Linked DNA regions of Homo sapiens: region 1 is linked to region 2. The links come from fine-mapping of genetic effects on gene expression. A gene starts in region 2. The other region holds a variant in brackets. All regions are shown on one strand. Distances are from middle to middle. Region 1 has its middle 22 kb from the start of LINC00622. Region 2 holds the start of LINC00622 (long intergenic non-protein coding RNA 622).

The links. PIP is the estimated chance that this variant, and not a neighbour inherited with it, causes the effect.
Region 1: its variant is the best candidate, but not a certain one, in a credible set for the expression of LINC00622 in whole blood (TOPMed, PIP 0.61).

What each region holds. Positions count from the first base shown.
Region 1 is chr1:119,574,128-119,579,506 of GRCh38, reverse strand. No RefSeq gene overlaps it. Among named protein-coding and RNA genes, the nearest start is that of LINC00622, 22 kb to the left of the region's middle. The variant G/C (reference allele first, on the strand shown) is at 3,077.
Region 2 is chr1:119,596,019-119,601,397 of GRCh38, reverse strand. LINC00622 (long intergenic non-protein coding RNA 622) reads left to right here and starts at 2,107. Exons shown (of 1, transcript NR_036540.1): 1 at 2,107-3,696. It also overlaps the pseudogene GAPDHP33 and the pseudogene HSD3BP5.

The DNA of each region.
Region 1 (5,379 bases), 22 kb after region 2:
TTTGTTGTTTTCTTGTAAATTTGTTTAAGTTCTTTGTCGACTCTGGATATTAGTCCTTTGTCAGATGGGTAGATTGCAAAGATTTTCTCCCATTCTGTAGTTTGCCTGTTCACTCTGATGATAGTTTCTTTTGCTGTGCAGAAGCTCTTTAGTTTAATTAGATCTCATTTGTCAATTTTGGCTTTTGCTGCATTGCTTTTAGTGTTTTAGTCATGAAGTCTTTGCCCATGCCTATGTCCTGAATGGTATTGCCTAGGTTTTCTTCTAGGGTTTTTATGGTGTTAGGTCTTACATTTAAGTATTTAATCCATCTTCAGTTATTTTTCGTACATGGTGTAAGGAAAGGATCCAGTTTCAGCTTTCTACATATGGCTAGCCAGTTTTCCCAGCACCATTTGTTAAATAGGGAATCCTTTCCCCATTGCTTGTTTTTGTCCGGTTTGTCAAAGATCAGATGGTTGTAGATGTGTGGTGTTATTTCTGAGGTCTCTGTTCTGTTCCATTGGTCTGCATGTCTGTTTTGGTACAAGTACCATGCTGTTTTGGTTACTGTAGCCTTATAGTATAGTTTGAAGTCAGATAGCGTGATGCCTCCAGCTTTGTTCTTTTTGCTTAGGATTGTCTTGGCTATGTGGGCTCTTTTTTGGTTCCATATGAAATTTAAAGTATTTTTTTCCCAATTCTTTGAAGAAAGTCAGTGGTAGTTTGATGGGGATAGTATTGAATCTATAAATTACCTTGGGCAGTATAGCCATTTTCATGATATTGATTTTTCCTATCCATGAGCATGGAACATTCTTCCATTTGTTTGTGCCCTCTTTTATTTTGTTGAGCAGTGGTTTGTAGTTTTCCTTGAAGAGGCCCTTCACATCCCTTGTAAGTTGAATTCCTAGGTATTTTATTCTCTTTGAAGCAATTGTGAATGGGAGTTCACTCATGATTTGGCTCTCTGTTTGTCTGTTATTGATGTATAGGAATGCTTGTGATTTTTGCACATTGATTTTGTATCCTGAGACTTTGCTGAAGTTGCTTATCAGCTTAAGGAGATTTTGGGCTGAGAGGATGGGGTTTTCTAAATATACAATTACATTGTCTGCAAACAGAAACAATTTGAGTTCCTCTTTTCTTAATTGAATACCCTTTATTTCTTTCTCTTGCCTGATTGCCCTAGCCAGAACTTCCAAAACTGTGTTGAATAGGAGTGGTGAGGGAGGGCATCTTTGTCTTGTGCCAGTTTTCAAAGGGAATGCTTCCAGTTTTGGCCCATTCAGTACGATATTGGCTGCAGGTTTGTCAGAAATAGCTCTTATTATTTTGAGATATGTTCCATCAATACCTAGTTTATTGAGAGTTTTTAGCATGAAGGGCTGTTGAATTTTGTCACAGGCCTTTTCTGCATCTATTGAGATAATCATGTGGTTTTTGTTGTTGGTTCTGTTTATGTGATGGATTACGAATATTGATTTGTGTATGTTGAACCAGCCTTGCATCCCAGGGATGAAGCCTACTTGATCATGGTGGGTAAGCTTTTTAATGTGCTGCTGCATTCGGTTTGCCAGTATTTTACTGAGGATTTTCACATTGATGTTCATCAGGGATATTGGCCTAAAATTCTATTTTTTTGTTGTGTCTCTACCAGGCTTTGGTATCAGGATGATGCTAGCCTCATAAAATGAGTTAGGGAGGGTTCCCTCTTTTTCTTTTGATTGAAATAGTTTCAGAAGGAATGGTACCAGCTCCTCTGTACCTCTAGTAGAATTCGGCTGTGAATCCATCTGGTCCTGGACTTTTTTTGGTTGCTAGCCTATTAATTATTGCCTCAATTTCAGAACCTGTTATTGGTCTATTCAGAGATTCAACTTCTTCCTGGTTTAGTCTTGGGAAGATGTATGTGTCTAGGAATTTATCCATTTCTTCTAGATTTTCTAGTTTATTTGCATAGAAGTGTTTATAATATTCTCTGATGGTAGTTTGTATTTCTGTGGGATCGGTGGTGATATCCCCTTTATCATTTTTTATTGCATCTATTTGATTCTTCTCTCTTTTCTTTTTTATTAGTTTTCCTAGTAGTCTATCTTTTTTGTTGATCTTTTCAAAAAAACAGCTCTTGGATTCATTGATTTTTTTTTTTTTTTTTTTTTTTTGAGACGGAGTCTCGCTCTGTCGCCCAGGCTGGAGTGCAGTGGCGGGATCTCGGCTCACTGCAAGCTCCGCCTCCCGGGTTCACGCCATTCTCCTGCCTCAGCCTCCCAAGTAGCTGGGACTACAGGCGCCCGCCACTACGCCCGGCTAATTTTTTGTATTTTTAGTAGAGACGGGGTTTCACCGTTTTAGCCGGGATGGTCTCAATCTCCTGACCTCGTGTTCCGCCTGCCTCGGCCTCCCAAAGTGCTGGGATTACAGGCATGAGCCACCGCGCCCGGCCTTCATTGATTTTTTTGAAAGTTTTTTTGTGTCTCTATCTTCTTCAGTTCTGCTCTGATCTTAGTTATTTCTTGTCTTCTGCTAGCTTTTGAATTTGTTTGCTCTTGCTTCTCTAGTTCTTTTAATTGTGATGTTAGGGTGTCGACTTAAGATATTTCCTGCTTTCTCTTGTGGGCATTTAGTGCTATAAATTTCCCTCTACACACTGTTTTAAATGTGTCCCAGAGATTCTGGTACATTGTGTCTTTGTTTTCATTGGTTTCAAAGAAGATTTTTATTTCTGCCTTCATTTCGTTATTTACCCAGTAGTCATTCAGGAGCAGGTTGTTCAGTTTCCATGTAGTTGTGCAGTTTTGAGTGAGTTTCTTAATCCTGAGTTCTAATTTGTTTGCACTGTGGTCTGAGAGACAGTTTGTTGTGATTTCTGTTCTTTTACATTTGCTGAGGAGTGTTTTACTTCCAATTATGTGGTCAATTTTAGAATAAGTGTGATGTGGTGCTGAGAAGAATGTATATTCTGCTGATTTGGAGTGTAGAGTTCTGTAGATGTCTATTAGGTCTGCTTGGTGCAGAGCTGAGTTCAAGTCCTGGATATCCTTGTTAATCTTCTGTCTCACTGATCTGTCTAATATTGACAGTGGGGTATTAAAAT[G/C]TCCCATTATTATTGTGTGGGAATCTAAGTCTGTTTTGTAGGTCTCTAAGGACTTGCTTTATGAATCTGGGTGCTCCTGTATTAGGTGCATATTTATTTAAGATAGTTAGCTCTTCTTGGCGAACTGATCCCTTACCATTATGTAGTGGCCTTCTTTGTCTTTTTTGATTTTTGTTGGTTTAAAGTCTGTTTTATCAGAGACTAGGAGATTGCATTCCCTGCTTTTTTTTTGCTTACTATTTGCTTGGTAGATCTTCCTCCATCCCTTTATTTTGAGCCTGTGTGTGTCTTTGCACGTGAGATGGGTATCCTGAATACAGCACACTGATGGGTCTTGATTCTTTATCCAATTTGCCAGTCTGTGTCTTTTAATTGGGGCATTTAGGCCATTTACATTTAAGGTTATTATTATGTTTGAATTTGATCCTGTCATTATGATGTTAGCTGATTATTTTGCCCATTAATTGATGCAGTTTCTTCATAGCGTCGATGGTCTTTACCATTTGGCATGTTTTTGCCGTGGCTGGTTTTGCAGTGGTTGTTCCTTTCCATGTTTAGTGCTTCCTTCAGGAGCCTTGTAAGGCAGGCCTGGTGGTGACAAAATCTCTCAGCATTTGTTTGTCTCTAAAGGATTTTATTTCTCCTTCACTTATGAAGCTTAGTTTGGCTGAATATGAGTTTCTGGGTTGAAAATTCTTTTCTTTAAGAATGTCGAATATTGGCCCCCACTCTCTTCTGGCCTGCAGGTTTTCTGCCGAGAGATCCGCTGTTAGTCTGATGGTCTTCCCTTTGTGGGTAACTGAACCTTTCTCTCTGGCTGCCCTTAACATTTTTTCCTTCATTTCAACCTTGGTGAATCTGGCAATTATGTGTCTTGGGGTTGCCCTTCTCGAGGAGTATCTTTGTGGTGTTCTCTGTATTTCCTGAATTTGAATGTTTTCCCGCCTTGCTAGGTTGGGGAAGTTCTCCTGAATAATATCCTCAAGAGTGTTTTCTAACTTGGTTCCATTCTCCCTGTCACTTTCAGGTGCACCAAACAAATGTAGATTTGGTCTTTGCATATAGTGCCATATTTCTTGGAGGCTTCGTTCATTTCTTTTCACTCTTTTTTCTCTAATCTTGTCTTCTCACTTTATTTCATTAGTTTGATCTTCAATCACTGATACCCTTTCTTCCACTTGATTGAATCAGCTGTTGAATCTTATGCATGTGTCACAAAGTTCTCGTGCTGTGGTTTTGAGCTCCATCAGGTCATTTAATGTCTTCTCTACACTGTTTATTCTAGTTAGCAATTCGTCTAACCTTTTTTCAAGGCTTTTAGCTTCCTTGCAATGGGTTAGAACATGCTCCTTTAGCGCGGAGAAGTTTGTTATTACCGAAGGTCTGACGCCTGCTTCTGTCAACTCCTCAAAGTCATTCTCCGTCCAGTTTTGTTCCCTTGCTGGTGAGGAGCTGCGATCCTTTGGAGGAGAAGAGGCACTCTTTTTTGGAATTTTCAGCTTTTCTGCTCTGGTTTCTCCCCATCTTTGTGATTTTATCTACCTTTGGTCTTTGATGTTGATGACTGTGACCTATGGATGGGGTTTTGGTGTGGACGTCCTTTTTTTTGATGTTGATGCTCTTCCTTTCTGTTTGTTAGTTTTCCTTCTAACAGTCAGACCCCTCAGCTGCAGGTCTGTTGGAGTTTGCTGGATATCCACTCCAGACCCTGTTTGGCTGGGTATCAATAGTGGAGGCTGCAGAGCAGCAAGTATTGCCACCTGATCCTTCTTCTGGAAGCTTTGTCCCAGAGGGGCACCCACCTGTTTAAGGTGTCTGTCAGCCCCTACTGGGAGGTGTTTTCCAGTCAGGCTACATGGGGGTCATGGACCTGCTAGAAGAGGCAGTCTGTCTGTTCTCGGATCTGGAATGCCGTGCTGAGAGAACCACTGCTCTCTTCAGAGCTGTCAGACAGGGACATTTAAGTCTGCAGAAGCTGTCTGCTGCCTTTTGTTCTACTGTGTCCTTCCCTCAGAGGTGGAAGCTATAGAGGCAGTAGGCCTTGCTAAGCTGCAGTGGGTTCCACCTAGTTCATGCTTCCCAGCCTCTTTCTTTACACTGTGAGCTACTCAAGCCTCAGCAATGGCAGACGCCCCTCCCCCCCATCAAGCTACAGCATTGCCAGTCTATCTCAGACTGCTGCAGTAGCAGTGAGCAAGGCTCCCTGGGCGTGGGACCCACTGAGCCAGGCAAAGGAGGTTATCTCCTGGTCTGCTGGTTGCTAAGACTGTGGAAAAAGCACAGTATTTGGTCAGGAGTGTACC
Region 2 (5,379 bases):
TGATACTCTAACCCAGAAACCCTCCTGCTCCTGTCACAAGGCAGCTCCAGCCTGTCATGGCCAATCCAAAGTAGCAGACAACACACTCCAGGAAACAGAAGATGCTGGGGAGCAGATCTGATTCTAGGGTGACCCTGGAGAGGGCTAAAAAAAGAGATCAAATGGTTATATACTCACACAGATGTCTTATTTTCCTCTACCCCATTTTTTTTGCAAAAATTCCATGTCTCCACCATTGCCAGGAGTAGCTGAAAGAAAATGAAGAAGCTCTTACTGTTAGATTGTTAAAGCTGGACAAAAGAGTCAGGGTGCTTGTCACTTCATCCCCTAAGGGAGCCCTGGGCCTTTATGCTCCGTGGCTTCTGACTTGCCCCTTATCCCCTTGAACTCCTGCCACATACTCATTTCTCCTGCCTCCTCCAGCATCCCTTTTCTCAGAAGAATAGTGACCTTTAGTCTATATCTCTAATTCTTCCCAGGAACAGGAAGAGAAGTCCAATTCTAAGGCAGCAATGCAGTAAAGAGTCTTAGGTTTAGCCTTAACAGGACACTGGTCAGTTGATACCAGATATCGGGGATCCGCAATCTGTGATCTTAAACTAGGCTGAGAGAAATCTCCAAGTGTAATGTGAACTTTGCTTTTGTGCAGTAAATATGTTTGGAAGGAAATCCACATTAGCTCGTTATCTCCTCTCTCTGAGTGTCATTTGAAATGTTGCTGCTGTCTTGCAAAGTTTAGAAATTTGCAATGGTGACAGCTCCAATCACTAAGTTTTACGGAGGTGACTTACTTACCTATTCAATATATCCAAAACCTCAATTGCAATTTTCCCCCAGAGAGCTCTGGGTTCCTAGATGAAGAACACCATTGAAGGAAAGCTATCTAGTGTTAACCATTTAATGATATGGCCTGTACCACAGGAGTGGGGATTTGTGGTTGTATGCTCCAATGACTCTTATCATAGATGTTTGAACTTTTCCCATATTTTTGGGTACAAAACCATTCTCAGCAAATTTCTGAAGATGCTGTGAATGCTCCTTGAGCGTATACCTGAGAACTGCCCAAATTTCACCACCATAAGCTCTCCAAGATACTTTCCTCTACTTAAAAAAATCGAGGCCAGGCGCAGTGGCTCATGCCTGTAATCCCAGCACTTTGGGAGGCCGAGGCAGGCAGATCATGAATTCAGGAGATCAACACCACCCTGGCTAACACGGTGAAACCCCATCTCTACTAAAAATACAAAAACTTAGCTGGGCCTGGTGGTGGGCGCCTGTAGTCCCAGCTACTCAGGAGGCTGAGGCAGGAGAATGGCGTGAACCCTGGAGGCGGAGCTTGCAGTGAGCTGAGATTGCGCCACTGCACTCCAGCCTGGGCGACACAGTGAGACTCCGTCTCAAAAAAGAAAAAAAAAAAAAATCCAGGTGTAATCAGGTGTAATTTATATTCACTAAAATGCCCAGAGCTCGTGTTTAGTTTGATGAACCTTGACAGTTATGTATGCCCATGTAAGTAGCACCCAAAAAATGTATTGGTCATTTCCTTCACTGCAGAAAGTTCTTTTCTGCCTGTTCTTAGTTAATTCCCTCCCCTGCCCCCAATTTACCCTGGTAGGCAGCTACTTTCTGATTTTTATTCCCACAGAATTTTCATTTTATTCCTATATTTTCTTAATTTATTCTTCTAAGATCTCTGTGGTTCTGGATATATATTTAAATATAAAATCATTCTGAACTGAAGTTTTGTTCATGGAGTACAGAAGGATTGACCATTGATTGTCTCTATTGTTTGTTCATTTTTCTATTTCATGATTTTCTTTGTTTTTATTATCAGCTTATGTTTATTAACTTGGGGGTTGTTTTACTCCTTTTTTTCAGGGTTCTTATTATAAAAGCATATATAATTGACTTTAGTCCTTTGCTCATTTCCACTACAGGCATTTAAAGTTGTAAGTTTCTCTCTAAGCACTGTGTCAGCTGCAGCCAACATTTTGATGCATCGGGTTATCATCACTCAGTTAATGATGTTTTGAATTTTTTCTTGTGAGTTCGTCTTTGACCCAAGTGACCGATACCAACAGAGTATGTAGCTTGTTTTCTGAAATTGGGAATCTTCTAGATATCTTATTGTTTTGAATTTCTAATTAAATACTACTGTGGCCATAGCATATACTCTGTATGATTTTGATCCTTGTGTATATATTGAGACTTGTTTTATGGTGCAGCAAAAGGTCTGTGTTGGTGAACATCCCATAAACACTTGAAACGAATGCTTTCTGCAGTTGTTGGAAGTAATATTCTACAAATGATTTGCTTTGAAACCCCACTCTAGGTCTTGCCCTCCTCCCATGTTGAAAACATTCAACTGCTACTTGGGACCTGACTACCAATGCTTCAAACCCACTTGCCTAGAAAAGGTTGGCCCTGTGCTGCAAGATGTAGCAGCTTGTTCTCCGATAGCTACAGGCCCTGGGTCTTGCTGAGACATGTGGAGCACTATCTGAACCACCCAGGTGCATCACACACCTTTGCCTGCTATAGCACATGCTAGAGTGCACCTTACAGATCCCATCACCTTTCGGATGGGGCCAGACATTCCCTATGCTGTTGAGAGTTCTGGAGGCTGATAGATTTCAGCCAGTGTCTCTTGGAGTCTCTGAGTGGAACCGATAAATAAAAGCCCTAAAGAAAGTGAGAAATTAAACAAAGGGCAAGACTGATGGGGGCCACACTACTAAATTTCTTTTGTTTTTAAACAGCTTTACTGAGGTATAATTGACATAACATTCGCTTGTTTTAAGTGTGCAGTTAAATTATTTTCAGTAAAATTTTAGACTTGTGTGACCATCACCATGATCCTGTTTTGCAACATTTCTATCATTCCTAAGAAATCCCCTATGTTCATCAGTCACCACCACTTTTTCCCAGTCCCCAGCTCCAGGCAACCTCTAATTGACTTTCTGACTCTACAGATTTGCCTTTTCTGGAGACCATATAAATGAAATCATGCAATATGTGGTCTTTTGTATCTGTCTTCTTTCATTTACTTTAATATACTTTTATGGTTCATGTATGTGGCAGCACATATCAATATTTTAATCCTGTTAGGGGACAAATCCTATTAAATTGTATGGATAGCTCCCATTAGTTTATTCATTTATCAGTTGATACATATTTGAGTGTTTCTACTTTATGGACAATTATGGATAAAGTTGCTATGAATATTCACATTCATGTGTTGTGTGGACATAGGTTTTTTTCTTCTGGGTAGATAGCTAGAAGTGATAGTGCTAGGTCATATGGTAAATATATCTTCAACATTTTAAGATACTGCCAAACTGGTTTCCAACGTGACTGCATGTCCCATCAACAATGCGTGAGTGTTTTAGTTTTTCCACGTCATTATTTCACTTCCCCCAGGTGTTACTGTCCTTTTTTATTATAGCATTCTAGTGGGTAAGAAGTGGTGTCTCACTGTAGTTTTGATTTGCATGTCCCTGCTGACTGATGATGCTGACCATCTTTTCATGTATTTTATTGTCTATTCCTACACCTTTTTGATGAAATGGTTATTCAAATATTTTGCCTATTTTAAAATTGGGTTATTTATCTTTTTGTTGCGTAGTTGTAAGTGTATTTCATATTCTGGATATGAGTCCTGTATTAAATATATGATTTGAATTTTTTTTCTCAGTCTCTGGTTTATCTCTTCATTTTCTTATTGGTGGCTTTTAAATGCCAACATTTTTAGTTTTGATCCTGTTTCATTTTTCAACTATTTTTTAACCAGGAAAAGTTGGGTTTTTGCCTAATTCAAGATCATGAATATAATAATCTATGTTTTCTTCTAAGAGGTGTATAGTTTAGCCCTTAAATTTAGGCCTTTATTTTATTTTGAGGGAAGTTTTGCCTATGTGTGGGTTAATGGCCTAAATTCATATGGCCAATTGATTTTGACAATAGCAAATTCAATAGGGAAAAAGATTGTCTTTTAAACAAGTGACACTGAGACAACTGAATTGTCCACATGCTCAGGGAATGTCAGCCTGCTATGTCAAGTGGTGCCCACCCGAGTCACCACCTATTGACATCAGAGTGTGTGAAGAATTTCTCAATATGATAACTATGGGTTAAATAATATGCTGTAGCTTTCTGCTCCTCCCATTCGACAGATAGCCGCATCTTCTTGTGCAGCGCCAGCCGCATCCCTGAGACACCATGGTAAGGGTGAAGGCCAGAGTCAATGGATTTGGCCCCATTGGTTGCCTGGTTACCAAGGCTACTTATAACTGGTAAAGTGGATATTGTCACCATCAATGACCCCTTCATAGTCTACAAATTCCATACTACATGGTCTATGTATTCCAGTATGATTCCACCCGTGGTGAATTCCATGGCACCGTAAAGGCTGAGAACAGGAAGCTTGTCATCAATGGAAATCCCACCACGATCTTCCAAAAGCTAAATCCCACCAAAATCAAATAGGACAATGCTGGCACCAAGTACATCATAGACTCCAGTGTCGTCTTCACTACCATGGAGAAGTGTGTGGCTCATTTGTAGGGGCCAGTTAAATGGATCATCATCTCTAACCCCTCTGCTGACAGCCCCATGTTTGTGATGGGTATGAACCATGAGAAATATAACAACAGCCTCAAGATCATCAACAGTGTTTCTTGTACCACCAACTGCTTAGCATCTCTGGCCAAGATCATCCATGACAACTCCGATTTAGTGGAAGGACTCATGACCACAGTAAATGCTATGATTGCCACCCAGAAGACTGTGGACGGCCCCTCTGTGAAACTGTGGCATGACAGCTGCAGGGCTCAAAGGAACATCATCCTTGCATCTACTGGCACTCTCAAGGCTGTGGGCAAGTATATCAATGAGCTGCATGGGAAGATCACTAGCATGGCATTCCAGGTCCCCACCACGAACATGTTGGTCATGAACCTGACCTGCCCTCAGGAAAAGCATGCCAAATATGATAACATCAAGCAGGTGGTGAAGCAGCATCAGAAGGCCCCCATAAGGGCATCCTGTGCAACACTGAGAACCAGGTTGCCTCCTCCAGCTTAACCATTGACACCCACTCTTCCACCTTCAATCCTGGGACTGGCATTGCCCTCAGTGACCACTTTGTTAAGCTCATTTTCTCATATGATAATGAATTTGGGTACAGCAACAGGATGGTGAACCTCATGGCTCACATAGCCTCCAAGGAGTAAGACCTCTGGGCCACCAGCCCCGCGAGAGCATGAGAGGAAAAGAGAGGCCCTCAGCTGCTGGGGAGTCCCTGCCACACTCAGTCCCCCACCACACTGAGATTCTCCCCTCCATGCAGTTTCCATGCAGACCCCCTGAAGAGGGAGGGGC